4 linked regions of the Homo sapiens genome follow. The protein of the gene in region 3 purifies or fractionates together with the protein of the main gene of each other region. This does not show direct contact. Each region holds a gene or a part of one and is shown on either strand. Other genes may lie near its edges.

Region 1 (3,500 bases), on a different chromosome or scaffold from region 3:
TTGAGTGTTTGATCAAATTCTTATTGAGATTACAGCCTGTGCAAAATATTTGTGATGCATTTTTAAGTTTACTTAAGTACACTTTGAAATTCTTTAAAAATTTTAAAATCTTTAAAAGGACACAAGAGTGTACCACATTGAGATTAAAATGTGTTTATTATTAATTTGTACATAATACTATAACAAATAATTGTTCTCAGGTATGTTTAAGGCCTTATTTTAAAAGTTGATTCTTCAATTTCTAATTTAAAATAAGCTTTTAGTTTTTCTCAACTATGTATATGTAATGATTATAGATGCCTAGAGTAGTGTTTCCCAGACAACTAGAACCACACACAAATTAGTACCACCAAAAAAAAAAAAAAAAAAACTTCATGAAGAACAGGGATTACTGGTCAAAAAATACGAGAAACACTTCATTTCTGTTAGGAGTATATTAAAGGCTTTTGAGAAGACCACTAGTTAAATGTGTTTTCCAAACTTGATCACAAAACTCAACTATAATATCTATAAAGTTAGTCCATAGCACAAACATGCTTAAATTTGTTGGATAAATGCATAAACTGTGAAGACATAAACACACTTTGGCAACTGCTGGTCTCTTTAAGAGATGGAATCTACCTTTTAGCTACCAATAAATTCCATACCACATTTCATTGATTTAAAAAACACATCTTTTTAAACATCTCTGAAATAGATCAGGGGAGGCTTGCTATCACTGTTGGCCAAATGGCTTTCACTTAATTGTCTAGGTAACATCATCTACACTTAATTATTATTTCCTAATGACATAATTGGACTATTGCAATCCTTGAGCTTTAAATCAGCAAATCATTACAGAGGAATGTAAGGAATACAAGCCTTGGTTGTTACCTGAAAATCTTCGGTAGGCACCTCCCATTAAACACAGAGAGCATCTGTTCAGATCTTGCAATTTCTATGGAGAAATTTTAGGAATAATCTCATCAGTTTATTTTGCATGTACTTTTTGCTGTTCAAGAGAATTATAAATGACAAAATTGATGGATAAGTCCTAAAGAGTAAACATTGATCTGGGCATAAATTGACAGTGGTTTTTCATTTTTGTAATGTATAATATAAGGTACACTTTTATAATTAATGGTGTCCTAAATACAATCAAAAGCACTGTTTATAATACAGGGTTTTTTTTTTACAGATAAAGCATATGATATAGTCCAGTTGACCCTTGAATAACGTGGGAGTTAGGGGTTCCAACCCCCTGTGCAGTTGAAAATCTGCATAAAACTTTTTTATTTCTCAAAAACTTTACTAATAGCCTACTGTTGACTGGAAGCCTTACTGATAACACAGACAGGCGATTAATATGTATTTTGTTATGTGTATTATATACTGTATTCTTACAATAACGTTAAAGAAAAAATACTAAGAAAATCATAACAGAAAGTATATTTACTATTCATTAAGTGGAAGTGGACCATGGGAAAGGTCTTAATCCTTGTCTTGTGTTGAATATACTGAGGAGAAGGAAGAGGAAGGGTTGGTCTTGCTGTCTCAGGAGTAGCGGAGGCAGAAGAAAATCTGCATATGTCATTCAAGGGTCAGCTGTACTTTCCTTGATAGTTTCACTTATTCTAAAAGATTAATCCTACTTTAGAATTATAGAATTGGTATTTGTACCCCATTCTTGCTAATTATCTTATAGTTTTGTGTGTGTGTGTGTGTGTGTATATATATATATATTTTTTTTTCCTTCTATTTAGTTTAAAGTTCCTGCTGCAACAAGTGCAATTATTACCAATGGTAAGAATTCACTATAAAATTATGTATTACCTCAAATTTATAGAAATGGTGTAAAAGGAACCAAATTAATTAAAATTAAATACAAAAAGCCCCAAGTATATGTATATCAACATAAATGATATACTTACTGGTAAACACTAAGTCAGGGTTATTGTTAATAATTAGCTCCTTTCATTTCTTTGTATATAGCTTTTGATATAGTATAGCACTTTATAATATCTTTTGTCCTTACCAGTTCATGCCAGATTATAACTGAAAATAACTTTATTTAGCAAGTTTTTTTTTTTATTAAGTAAAGTTGTTTGGTAAATGCTTTAGAATATAGAAAGTTAAGCAGGAATGTATCTTTGCTATACCTTTCCTGATAGAAAATTGTTTCTTGTAGGCTTGCAATAATGAGAATTTTATTCCGTTTTAGGTATATAATTAAAAATCTTAATATCTTGGAACACTGATAATCAATGATGATGGAATTAGTCTTGTGAGAAAATAGTGAAATAATAAGATGAGGAGTAAAGATTGCAGGGAGGGCTTAACTGTGTTTCAAGTATACAATGCAGTATTGATGAGTGCTGATGCGTTGCCCAAGTGCAGTTTGGACAGGAGATGGGCTTAATGTGCGTGATGTAACTTAGATAAGGTAGAATTTCTCACTCTAAAATATTCTGCATTCTGTCACATTGAAGTGTTTCTCTGTTGGAAAAAAGCTGGCTTACTACCTGGAAAGTTTTAGGTCATAACTTAGTAACGTGTTGAACTAAATGACTTTGTGAGCTCTCCCAGCCTTAAGATATTATGACCTAGAACAATACGAAGATGATTCATGGCATACCTAAGGGGCTTTTTAGTTTTTTGGAAGAAAGGACAAACATTATTTTTAATTCTATATGGCAAAATAGAATTAATAACCTATATTCCATAGAACTTACCAGGATCATTGCATTGACAGACGTTTTTGTCTAACCCAGCAATGTGTATGAATGCAGAATAATAGTAGATTTCAACAGATAATTTACCTGAAAGATTGTCACTCGTGTTCTTGGATTTAAAGTGTTTGGCTTATGTCTATATACACAACAGCACTATTTTGGCAAATCTCTTTCCTTGCTACTATTTAACCATTTTAGCTTTAGAAATAATGTATGTGATTTTACAACTTATTTTCTAGATGGAATAGGAATAAATCCTGCACAGACTGCTGGTGAGTATTTGAAAACTCATAGAGGAGTGGGTGGGGTTATATATGTCAATTGACACTGAATAGTTAAGCTATTCTAATTACACTTGACAGTATTTTAACATAATGGAGCTGTTTTTTAGGGATTATATACCAGTCTTTACCTGTGTGTCTGAGTAATAAGTTGTTTCATTGTGTATATTGATTGTAGATGTTTTTGGCTACAAGTAACAGAAAACCTAATAGTGGCTTAAGCATTAAGAGTATTTATTATATATAACAAAAAGTCTGTAGATAAGATTGCTTTCTAATTGGAGTATTTTTTGACCTACCTCTTAAGGTAGTTGTGAGATAGTGACTGTAAAGTGCTTCATAGCTTGGATTATTTATAGAAAGCATTCATTAAGTGCTATTATTTTTTTTAAATATAGTCATTTACATTTCAAGGGGCTGAGTCTACATTCAGATCTTCAAACTGTTAAATTTATACAGGTGATATATTGGTGTCCTGACCAGGAGACAGGGTAAAAGTAGTCTCATA
Region 2 (3,500 bases), on a different chromosome or scaffold from region 3:
TTAGCACAATTATTTAAGTAAGCTGTTTTTTCCTTTCTTTTCTTTCTTTTCTTGTTTTAACTTCTGGGTGAGGTTAAGATTTTCTAATAGTTATTGTTGTTGCCAGAGAAGCATAGAATTCTGCTTGTGTCTTAGGGTTAGAGAAAGATTTGTTATATTTTGAGGTAATTTGGAAGGACTTTCATACATGGTGACTAGAAACCTGATCTTTTTAAGAATAAAATAGGGTCACTATTTACATTATATATAATATATGGCTATTATAGCTATATTAATCTACTTTAATTGTTTCTAAGATTATTTTGTGTAAGTCAGCTAGCGTGTGTATAGTGTCATTTCTTATGTTTTGTATATTAACGTTTTACAAACACAATTTGTGTGGGTTTGTAGCATTTCTTATAGTTTAAAGTATGATTCAGCATTCTAAGTTAAAACTAATATGTGAAGTCAGTCATTAGTCTGCATAATCTCTGTCTCCCTCTGTGTGTGTCTTTCTATAAAGCACATGTGTACACACACACACACAAATATACTGAAAGCTAGGGTAAGTTCTAAACTGAATATCAAAAACCAAAATCAAGAACAAAGAAGTGATATTTTCCAAACAAACATGGATTCTCTGCCGGGTGCAGTGGCTCAGCCTGTAATACCAGCCTCCACTTTGGGAGTCTGAGGTGGGAGTATTGCTTGAGCTCAAGAGTTGGAGAACAGCCTGGGCAACATGGTGAGACCTGGTCTTTACAAAAATTTTTTTGGCCGGACGCAGTGGCTCACACCTGTAATCCCAGCACTTTGGGAGGCCGAGGCAGGTTGATCATGAGGTCAAGAGATCGAGACCATCCTGGCCAACATGGTGAAACCCCGTCTTTACTAAAAATACAAAAATTAGCTGGGAGTGGTGGCGTGCGCCTGTAGTCCCAACTACTTGGGAGGCTGAGGCAGGAGAATCGCTTGAACCCAGGAGGCGGAGGTTGCAGTGAGGCGAGATCACGCCACTACACTCCAGCCTGGCGACAGAGCAAGACTCTCTCAAAAAAAAAAAAAAAAAATTTTTTTTTTAAATGGGCTGGGCATGGTGGCTTGTGCCTGTAGTCTCAGCAACTTGGGAGGCTTAAGTAGTAGGATCGCTTGAGCCTGGGAGGTTGAGGCTGCAGTGAGCTGTGATTGTGCCACTGTGCTTCAGCTTGAGTGACAGAGTGAGACCCTCCTGACTCAAAACAAAAAACATGGTTTCTCCTCTCTCTCCTGTCTTCTTACTCTCTATCCCATTTGATGTAGTGATTTTTAAATGCTTTTGTAAGTTAATTCTTAACACAAAAGAGACATTGTAATGAGGCACACCACTAAAGTGAGCATGCCCAATTAAAACCAGTGTAATATAGGATAAGAAAATCTGATTTTTCAAAAAAGATACTCTACATAAAGAATCCTTCATATAAAAAGTTCTTTCTTGTAGTACATTTAAAGTTTTAATTCACTCATGTATAACTGAGAGTTCCTTTGAGCCCTTTTTAGGCAGGGAGGCATGTCTGTCATCTAGCGTGTGGCCCAGTAAGTGATTATTACATTGGAATCAGTTTTTCAGTCTTTTAAAATAAATTCTGTGCCATAAGAATAAAAGATAAAGAGAAAAATTAATGTTAACTATTTTTAGCTTATTATAACTATGTCAACAAGTGTTTATTAATACCTATTATGGGAAAGTCACTGTGGTTGGCATTGAAAATTACATCATCTTTAAAGCAGTATTTGTCCCCAGATGGACTCATCACTAGCAAAGACTAGGTTCATTGGAAGGCATAGGGTGAGAGAATGGGAAGATGAAGTGGAGGCGGGTTGTTAAAGTGCTGTCAGTGAGTGATTTTGTCTACTTGAATAATGGTCCATGTTTGGGGGCATATTGTGTTTCATAAGAAGTGAAAGGTATTTGCAAAGTAAGCTACAAATGACCCATAAATCTGTTAACAACAGTCCTTAATATGCAAAGATGAAAAACAAGCATTACTGCTACCCAAAGGGAACTGGTGCTTGGTGATGTGCAGATGGGGCTGTTGGTTAAGAGAGCTATTACAGGTTTTCTCTCTTAGGTTTCATAGGAGGTAGTTACTGAGATGAGATTGTTTTATCTTTTTGAATACAGATCTCTTGTCTTGAGTTAGTTCTGAGGATGGGAGTAATAAAGGAGTTTTTTGTTTTTTTGTTTGTTTGTTTGTTTTGGCTCCTTAGTAATACTCCTCTGACATTTATTTCTATTATTCTTCAAAGAAAGGAAACCAACTGAAATGTTTGCTTTAACAAACATTTTAATAAGTTCTCTGGGTTTTTTTTTCCCCTTTTAAAAAAATTAGCATATACCATAGCAATAAAAGAACTAATGTTAACTATTGTATGCTACAACTTAAGTGATTTTTCTAAAGAAGCACAATGTCATTGAAAGTATTATTGAAAAGGATCATAGTCACATTGAATTTGTGAAGGCCAAAGAAATTGAAGGGAGTGATATTTTCATTTTATGATATTCACATATTTAGTAAATTTTGTGTACAAGAATACCAGGCAGAGTGTTTTACCCATGGAAACAGGTTTCAGATTACTTTATTTTTACTGTTAGAGTCTCAAGTTTAGAAATGCTAACACTTAAATCAGTTTTTTTCTCACTATACTTGAAGATTGTTAATATTTTGATATCTTCCTAGCTTGATGAATTTAAACATATCTTCAGATCTGTGACAGTGACAGCCAATAGGACTGATAATATTAGCTTCAAACCAATAATATCCAGGGTTAAAATAAAAATCATAGTGAAAGTACGATTGTAAAATTATGCTATATTAACTTTTAAGTCTGTAATAACTTGACATCAAAATGTTATGTAATTACCATAAATAATGGCTAGCGAGAACATCTTTGGAAATTCTCAAATTACCTTTCTTACTACACTGTTTGCAGAATGAATGTAGAAATGATCCTGTTAGCTTTCTGAATGTTCTGTGGTTGAATGTGTTTTTGCTTAAATAAAGCTTTTGGTATTTGTTTAAATTACACTTCTTGAGAAGTGGAAATTTTAGGATCATCTTTGCTTTGTTTCAGTTTTGTGATTTTTGAAATGAATGTTTAGTTTACTGAGCCAGTTGGTCATTTCTTCCTCATGTCGTTAAGTCCAGTGAGTAAGCCTGAACTGTGAATAAATTACCAAAAACTTGCTTAGAATTTCATTTTGAAGCAATTTGCTAATATTTGAAGTGTATACACATTTGTAGTTATGTTAGAAATTGTATTGTACTAAGAATGTAATCAATGTCTACTTTAGTTGTAAACATTTCTGATGTCAAAACTTTATTCATTACTGTTGATTTTAAGAATAAGAAATCACTGCCTAAATATTACCAAAAGCCACTGTCTCTACCCGAACTTCCCAGTTTGGGAAAGAATCGTTAGATAAAACAAAGGCTCTGCCCTTTCTGATACCAAACTCCACAGATACTTTCTCACATCTTTTA
Region 3 (3,500 bases):
GAGTTTCTGTCTTCAACTCTGACTTCTACCCTGTAGTCTAGTGTCCTGTATCCCACTGCAAAGTTCTTTCTTCTTGGATGTCTGGTAGGCACCTCAGATTTAACGTGCCCAGCCCCCACACACACACAAAACTTGCAGTTAGTTTTTTCCATTCTAATAAATGACATTACCATCTGTCCCCTTGCTTAAGTTAAACCTTTGGAGTCATCCCTGATTGTTCTTTCGTGTCACATGGCTAATTGATTAATTAGCAAGTTCCATGGGCTCAAATTTAAAGACATATTTAATGTAATCCGGCTGCTGTTTTCCATCTCTACTACTTCCAGCTTAGACCAAGCCAACATCTTCTCTCATCTGGACCACTGCATTAGCTTTCCAGCTGATCTCACAGCTTTCAGTCTTGCCCCACCCGCCAACACTACAGCCAAAGCAGTCCTTCAAAAATGTAAATCAGAGTATGTCTGAAGCTTGCTTGAAAACTTTCCAGTGGCTTCTCATCACACTGAGGAAAAAGTCCAAACTCCTTTCCCTGGCCAGGAAGGTCCTCCATGGCCCTACATTTCAGCCTCTGATCCCCAGCCTGATAACTCACATGCCAGAGTTATTCTTGTTGGTCCCTCTTCCTGGCACGCTCCTCCTTAGCCTTTCACATGGCTGGCCTCTCTCACATAGTCCCTCTTCATATTCTGAGACCACTTTCTGAAGTTACCTCATTTCTCGCTTCACTTGTATTTCCATGACCTTGTTTTATTTTTCATTATAGTACTATGGCTATTGAAATTATATACCTGTCTGTTCTTGCCTACTAGAATAGCATAAGGCTTCATGAGAACAAGGACTGTGTCTGTCTTGTTTCCCACTATAGCCCAGAGACATACTACATTGGACGTATATATTAAGTACTAAATAAATGTTCACAGAAAGCATGAATTTAAAAATTAAGGATAGATTATGAGAAAAGAAAAAAGTTCTAGAGCCAAGACATTGCTTTTTTTTTTTTTTTTTTTTTTTTTTTTTTTTTTTTGGGACAGAGTATTATCTCTCTGTTGCCCGGGCTGGAGTACAGTGATGCAATCGCCACTCACTGCACGCAACCTCCGCCTCCTGGGTTCAAGTGATTCTTATGCCTAAACCACCCAAATAGCTGGGATTATAGACCCACACTGCCACGCCCAGCTAATTTTTGTATTTTTAGTAGTGATGGGGTTTCGCCATGTTGGCTAGGCTGACGGTCTCAAAGTCCTGACCCCAATTGACCTGCCTGCCTCGGCCTCCCAAAGTGCTGGGATTATGGGCCTGAGCCACCACACCCGGCCAGCACTGCTTTCTAATAGAAAAAGAAACAACTTGGAAGAAATTAGAAGAAATGCAGTATGTTGAACCAAAACATAGCAAAGGATTATTAGAAGGGCAGCTGATGCTGGATAAAGGAAAAGATATTATGCATCAACCACCTCATAGTGCTGGAGCAGTAGTTTGAGGGTTGAAGGAACAGTGAGGATTTAACTAGAAATATAATCTTAGTACTCAAGACCTAGAAAAAAGAGAATGATAGTCTGCCACCAGATTGGTTTCCCTTAACTCTTTAATTTGTATCTTCAAATTCTCTCTCACCTAGCCTGGCCAACATAATGAAACCCCATCTCTACTAAAAATACAAAAATTAGCCGGGCATGGTGGCGCATGCCTGTAATCCCAGCTACGTGGGAGGCTGAGGTAGGAGAATCGCTTGAACCTGGGAGGAGGTGGTTGTAGTGAGCCAAGATCACACCACTGCACTCCAGCCTGGGTGACAGAGCGAGACTCCGTCTAAAAAAAAAAAATTCTCTCTCACTCTTTCACTGCGCACTTGAACTCTGTTCTGGCCTGTCCTGGACTGGGTAAATGACAAGTAGGCAAAAACCAGGACTTGGAGTATAGACCAGGATATGGCAAACTACAGCCACAAGCCAAATCCAGCCTGCCACCTGTTTTTGATAGCCTAAAAGCTAAGAATGGTTTTTACAGTTTTAAATCATTGGAAAGCAAAATATTTCATGATAATGTGAAAATTATGTGAACTTAAATTTTAGTGTCCATAAATAGTTTATTGGAACACACCTATCCTTTTTTGTTTACATATTATCTGTGCCTGCTCTCGTGCTACAATAGTATCATTGAGGAGCTGCGACACAGATGGTCTGTCTGACCCACAAAGCCTACAATCTTTACTATCTTGCTCTTTATAGAAAAAGTTTTCCAGCATCAGGTATACACTTGGCAAATGACTCTTCCTTTCGTATCCTTGGAGGATGATTGATGAAGGAATCTGATATAGCCAAAGATATGTAGGCCATTTTTCTTTGTGATAAAAATTATTTCTTCTCTTTTTACAGCAATTCAATTAAACCCCAGCTATATCAGGGCAATATTGAGGAGAGCAGAGTTGTATGAGAAGACGGACAAGCTAGATGAAGCCCTGGAAGACTATAAATCTATATTAGAAAAAGATCCATCAATACATCAAGCAAGAGAAGCTTGTATGGTAAAACCTAAAATTTTAAAAATATTTTTCCTTCTATTCTTTGTGTTGCTACCCAGTGAGTCCTAAATAATCCTTTCAGACACAATTAAATTCCATTTCTGTGCTTTTGAGGAGCTTATCAAGATATATGGGAGGCCAGGCGCAGTGGCTCTTGCCTGTAATCCCAGCACTTTAGGAGGCCAAGGAGGAGAGATCACTTGAGGCCAGGAGCTCGAGACCAGCCTGGCCAACACAACAAAACCCCATCTCTTCTAAAAATACAAAAAATTAGCCGGGTGTGGTCGTACACATCTGTAATCCTAGCTACTCGGGAGGCAGGAGAATTGCTTGAACCCAGAAGGCAGAGGTTGCAGTGAGCTGAGATCATGCCACTACACTGCAGCCTGGGCAACAGAGAGGATCATTGAGCCCAGGAGTTGGAGGCTGCAGTGAGCTGTGACTACATCACTGCATTCCATCATGGGCAACAGAGTAAGACTTTGTATCTTAAAAACAAACCAACAGGCTGGGTGCAGTGGCTCACGCCTGTACTCCCAGCACTTTGGGAGGCCGAGGAGGGCGGATCACCTGAGGTCGGGAGTTCGAGACCAGCCTGACCAACATGGAGAAACCCTGTCTCTACTAAAAATACAAAATTAGCTGGGTGTGGTGGCACATGCCTGTAATCCCAGCTACTCGAGAGGCTGAGGCAGGAGAATCGCTTGAACCCAGGAGGTGGAGGTTGCAGTGAGCTGAGATTGCGCCACTGCACTCCAGTCTGGGCGACAGTGTGAGACTCTGTCTTAAAAAAACAAAAAATACAAATGAATTTAAAAAAAAGTTAAAAATACAAATATAGCACTGTAAACATCTGATATGTATCCTTTCAAACTTTTTTCTGTATATATTTATTTGTTAAATTTGTATTGATGCCCTCCTTTAGTGTAGACTTTCTATTAAGAACTGGAAACAGAGCCAAACAAAACTTTTTTTTTTT
Region 4 (3,500 bases), on a different chromosome or scaffold from region 3:
AGGTTGCAGTGAGCTGAGATCATGCCACTCACTGCACTTCAGCCGGGACGACAGAGCGAGACTCTGTCTCAAAAAACAACAACCGTTCTAATCCAAGCCCACTCAACTATTCTCAACCAATTTATTGATGACAAAGGTATGTTTCAGCTTAGATAAATGGCTTGTACAGAGTCAAGTAGCTGATTCATTCAGTTAGCTCCTGCCATATGCCGGCACTGCACTACGGAAAATGATAAAGGAGACACAGCTCCTGGCTTCGTGGAAGCTGCAAATAGTTGAGCAGACAGAGGAGGCAACCAACTGTTCGGTAGATTCCTGTGCAGTGAAATATTAACAAGGGCCACCAAGGAGGGGCCTCTAAATCAGACAGATAGAGCTGAGAAGACCAGCAGATGACAGCAGAGGCCAGACTAAACCCAGCTCTCACTGTTCTTGGCATGCTACCTTGCTTACCTGTGGCACACTTTGAACAAATATGCAGGGACCACCTGCCACAGGGAGCAGGAGAGAACCAAAGCCACCCCAGACTAACTCATTCACAAATACTCCTAATTCTCACAGTGGTTGAACCTTACCAGTCTTTTCTCTTCGTATGTCCCTACAATCTGGTGGACACTCACAAAAGCATTGCTTCCTCCTTCTCATCTCCCCACTTACTCTGCAAGCAAGGAACTCATGATCCTTCTGCCACTTCCCTTCTTAACTTACTCTGAGGAAAAAAAAAAAAAAACAAAGCCCTAAGAGAATATGTAACTTTCAAAGTACATAATTCAAATCAAGTACCCACACATACACATTTTACATGATATGTTTTTAGGATTAAATAAACAGGCTAAAGTTTCTTAAGTTGAATTTACAAGGACTTCAGTATGCAGGTCGTTCTATCGGTATTTAGATGAGAATGCAGAAATCTCACCACACAATTGTTGCTGTCCTGGTAGTAGGACTCAGAACCATGAATGCTAGGATCTATAAAAATAATTGCAAGCCTTTGCCCCTCTTTTCAAAATATGAAGAGAATGGGTCTTAGTTTTATTAACCAGAAAACATAAACAGACACACATATACAGGGTTCTAAACCTCCACTAGATAAGAAACCCAAAGCTATTCTTTTCAAAGCTTCTGAGGTATATCTAGTAACTTAAAAATAATGTAATTCCAAACAGAACCAGCTGACTAGCTCAGAGCTAAAACTGATGGTTAACAAGTTATGGGAATGTCAATCAAATCAGAATATGAATCTTTCCACTGGAAAAAAGAGTGATTTGGTATTATTTCAACATCTACTACAAAAATGTTGGTACTTCTTTTAAGATCTAATTACACCTTACCTCCTGAACACTTGGTTGTAGATGGTTTCCTTGGGCTCAGACCATACTCTTGCTAAGTAGTCCTGCTTCGCCAACTAGACTTCCTCAATTGTTTTTCCCCCTTCTACACCATCTTTGCCTGCAATTTCATCTAACATTTCCAAAAGAAAAGGAATATGCTAAGAATGGTTTACTTTATATCACAGCATCAAATATCTTCCTTAAAATATATTCTCTAGGAGAAAACTAAAAATAATGTCAGAAAAATTCATTTTAATTCTATTATCTGTTATTAAGTCTATTTTGTTCATTAATTTCTAGTACTCACCATGTGACCCCAGTATGTCACCCAACTTTTTTCCAGCTTAATCTTTTTTATTTCTAAATTAAAGTAAACAAAACATGCTTTTGCTATCTTCTCACAGAAATTCGAAGGATTAATGAAATGATAAAAACTGCTTTGGAACTCTTGGAAGGGAAGAGTATACAAACTGGGTTCACTTTGTATATATTGGTTTAAAAAAAAAAGAACACATTGTGATAATGCATTTAACGAATGTGGGCAATGCTTTCTTTAAAGAAGGCTCAAATATATTCTATTAGCCTTATCTACAAGTAAGTATTTTGATGCAACTGTAATTTTCCAACATTCACGAAAAGAATTTGCAAATACGCATTACCATCTGCCTCAACTTACTTTTGTTTTTAAAACACTCAAAAAATGTCCAGTCTAAATAAAAGATTTAAATTAAGAGCAATCAGTTATTGAATGCATACTATGGACCAGGCACTTGATACCATCTTACTCAGAACTCACACACAGATTAAAAGGTGAAGTCTGCAATCCCTATTTTGCAGATGAAGGAACTGAGGCCAAGTGAGGCTAGATTCCGTAATGAGGAGCCATGCTACCAGTGAGAGTCAGAGGCAGGACTCAAGAGCTGCCAGCAAAGCCTGCACTCCATCACCATGCTGTGATGACTCCTCTTCAAATACTCACTTTTGAGAAATCTAAAAAAATAAGCACCATAAACAAGTTTAGTCACCCATCAAATTACTTATCAAATAGATTAGTCTTTCAATTCCAAGCCACTGGAAGGATAAACAATGAGGTCCTTCAGGATACCTAGCTACTGCTATCATGTATATATATGCTATTCATGGGTATATCATGACCTTGAAGCAGTGGGAAATAAAAATGACACACTGTCACAAAGAAGCACTGAGGTACATTTTAAACCCTTGGAAATAGAGGACTTGCAGCAGGGATATTAGAGAAAAACAAGATCTAAAGCAATCCTGTATCATTCATATAATTCCGGAATTAAATGTATCATCATTTTCCTCAACAACTGCTCTGTTTTTGTTATCAATTAACACTAAAGACAATGCAATATTAATGCTTGTTGAAAAATTGTTAAAATAATCTCTATAACATTAATGGACCTCAATGTCACTCAATGCACTCTAAGAATGCAAACACACACACAAAAAGAATAGAAAACAGGCAAACTGAAGGATGCAGATTTGCTACACAAATACATCTTTATTTTACCTAAAAGTTCACCCACTTGTTTAAATAATAACATTTCCATTTAGATTATTTATTTACATACAACTTTTCAGAAGCTCGTGTTGGTTTAAGCAAGGCCTATTGATGACCATCTCAGGCATATCTTTCTAGCTAATGCCCACCTGGTGGATAAATATTAATAATGTGTAAAAACATCCAATATCTTATTTAGTCTTTTCCTGGGCCCATCTGTTCCCTAAAAGTCACGCTTTACTCACGAGTATACTATTTCAGTCAAATTAACTTGCCTAAGTCTGAGAAAAATTCTGCTCCCTGTCTCCACTATTCTGTATGGGAAAAAAAAGGTAATAAAATGCAATGTCACTGCTGGTCAACTATCAAGAAGAGTAATGAAAGAGAGTATCACGGAAGAGAAAAAGGCTGGCCCAATGCAAAGGGATGGGAAAAGGAGGAGGCAGGGTGAGGGTTGGAGGGAGGTGCTCTAAAACAATAACAGGAGGAAGAGAAGATGATGAACTGGCACAGGCCTCCCAGTTCCTAACATTAAGTTCCAAACCTAGCTCTGATTTCTTCTGACCTTGGGCAAATCTCTGGTTTCTCTGTATCCTACTGTGCTCCAGGAAGTTAGAGAAAATCAAGCCAGAGAAAAGCTTCTT

Evidence for each region.
Region 1: the proteins of TTC1 (region 3) and UFM1 fractionate together in Homo sapiens (co-fractionation; one large-scale study listed by BioGRID). This does not show direct contact.
Region 2: the proteins of TTC1 (region 3) and GFPT1 fractionate together in Homo sapiens (co-fractionation; one large-scale study listed by BioGRID). This does not show direct contact.
Region 4: the proteins of TTC1 (region 3) and DNM3 purify together in Homo sapiens (affinity purification with a luminescence readout; one large-scale study listed by IntAct). This does not show direct contact.

The regions. Positions count from the first base shown.
Region 1 is NC_000013.11:38,356,351-38,359,850, forward strand, and holds part of UFM1 (ubiquitin-fold modifier 1), read left to right. Parts: intron 1-1,742; coding exon 1,743-1,782; intron 1,783-2,950; coding exon 2,951-2,983; intron 2,984-3,500. UniProt on the Homo sapiens protein: Ubiquitin-like modifier which can be covalently attached via an isopeptide bond to lysine residues of substrate proteins as a monomer or a lysine-linked polymer.
Region 2 is NC_000002.12:69,321,228-69,324,727, reverse strand, and holds part of GFPT1 (glutamine--fructose-6-phosphate aminotransferase [isomerizing] 1), read left to right. Parts: 3' UTR 1-3,500.
Region 3 is NC_000005.10:160,047,139-160,050,638, forward strand, and holds part of TTC1 (tetratricopeptide repeat protein 1), read left to right. Parts: intron 1-2,375; coding exon 2,376-2,524; intron 2,525-3,500.
Region 4 is NC_000001.11:171,847,998-171,851,497, reverse strand, and holds part of DNM3 (dynamin-3), read right to left. Parts: intron 1-3,500. UniProt on the Homo sapiens protein: Microtubule-associated force-producing protein involved in producing microtubule bundles and able to bind and hydrolyze GTP. Most probably involved in vesicular trafficking processes, in particular endocytosis.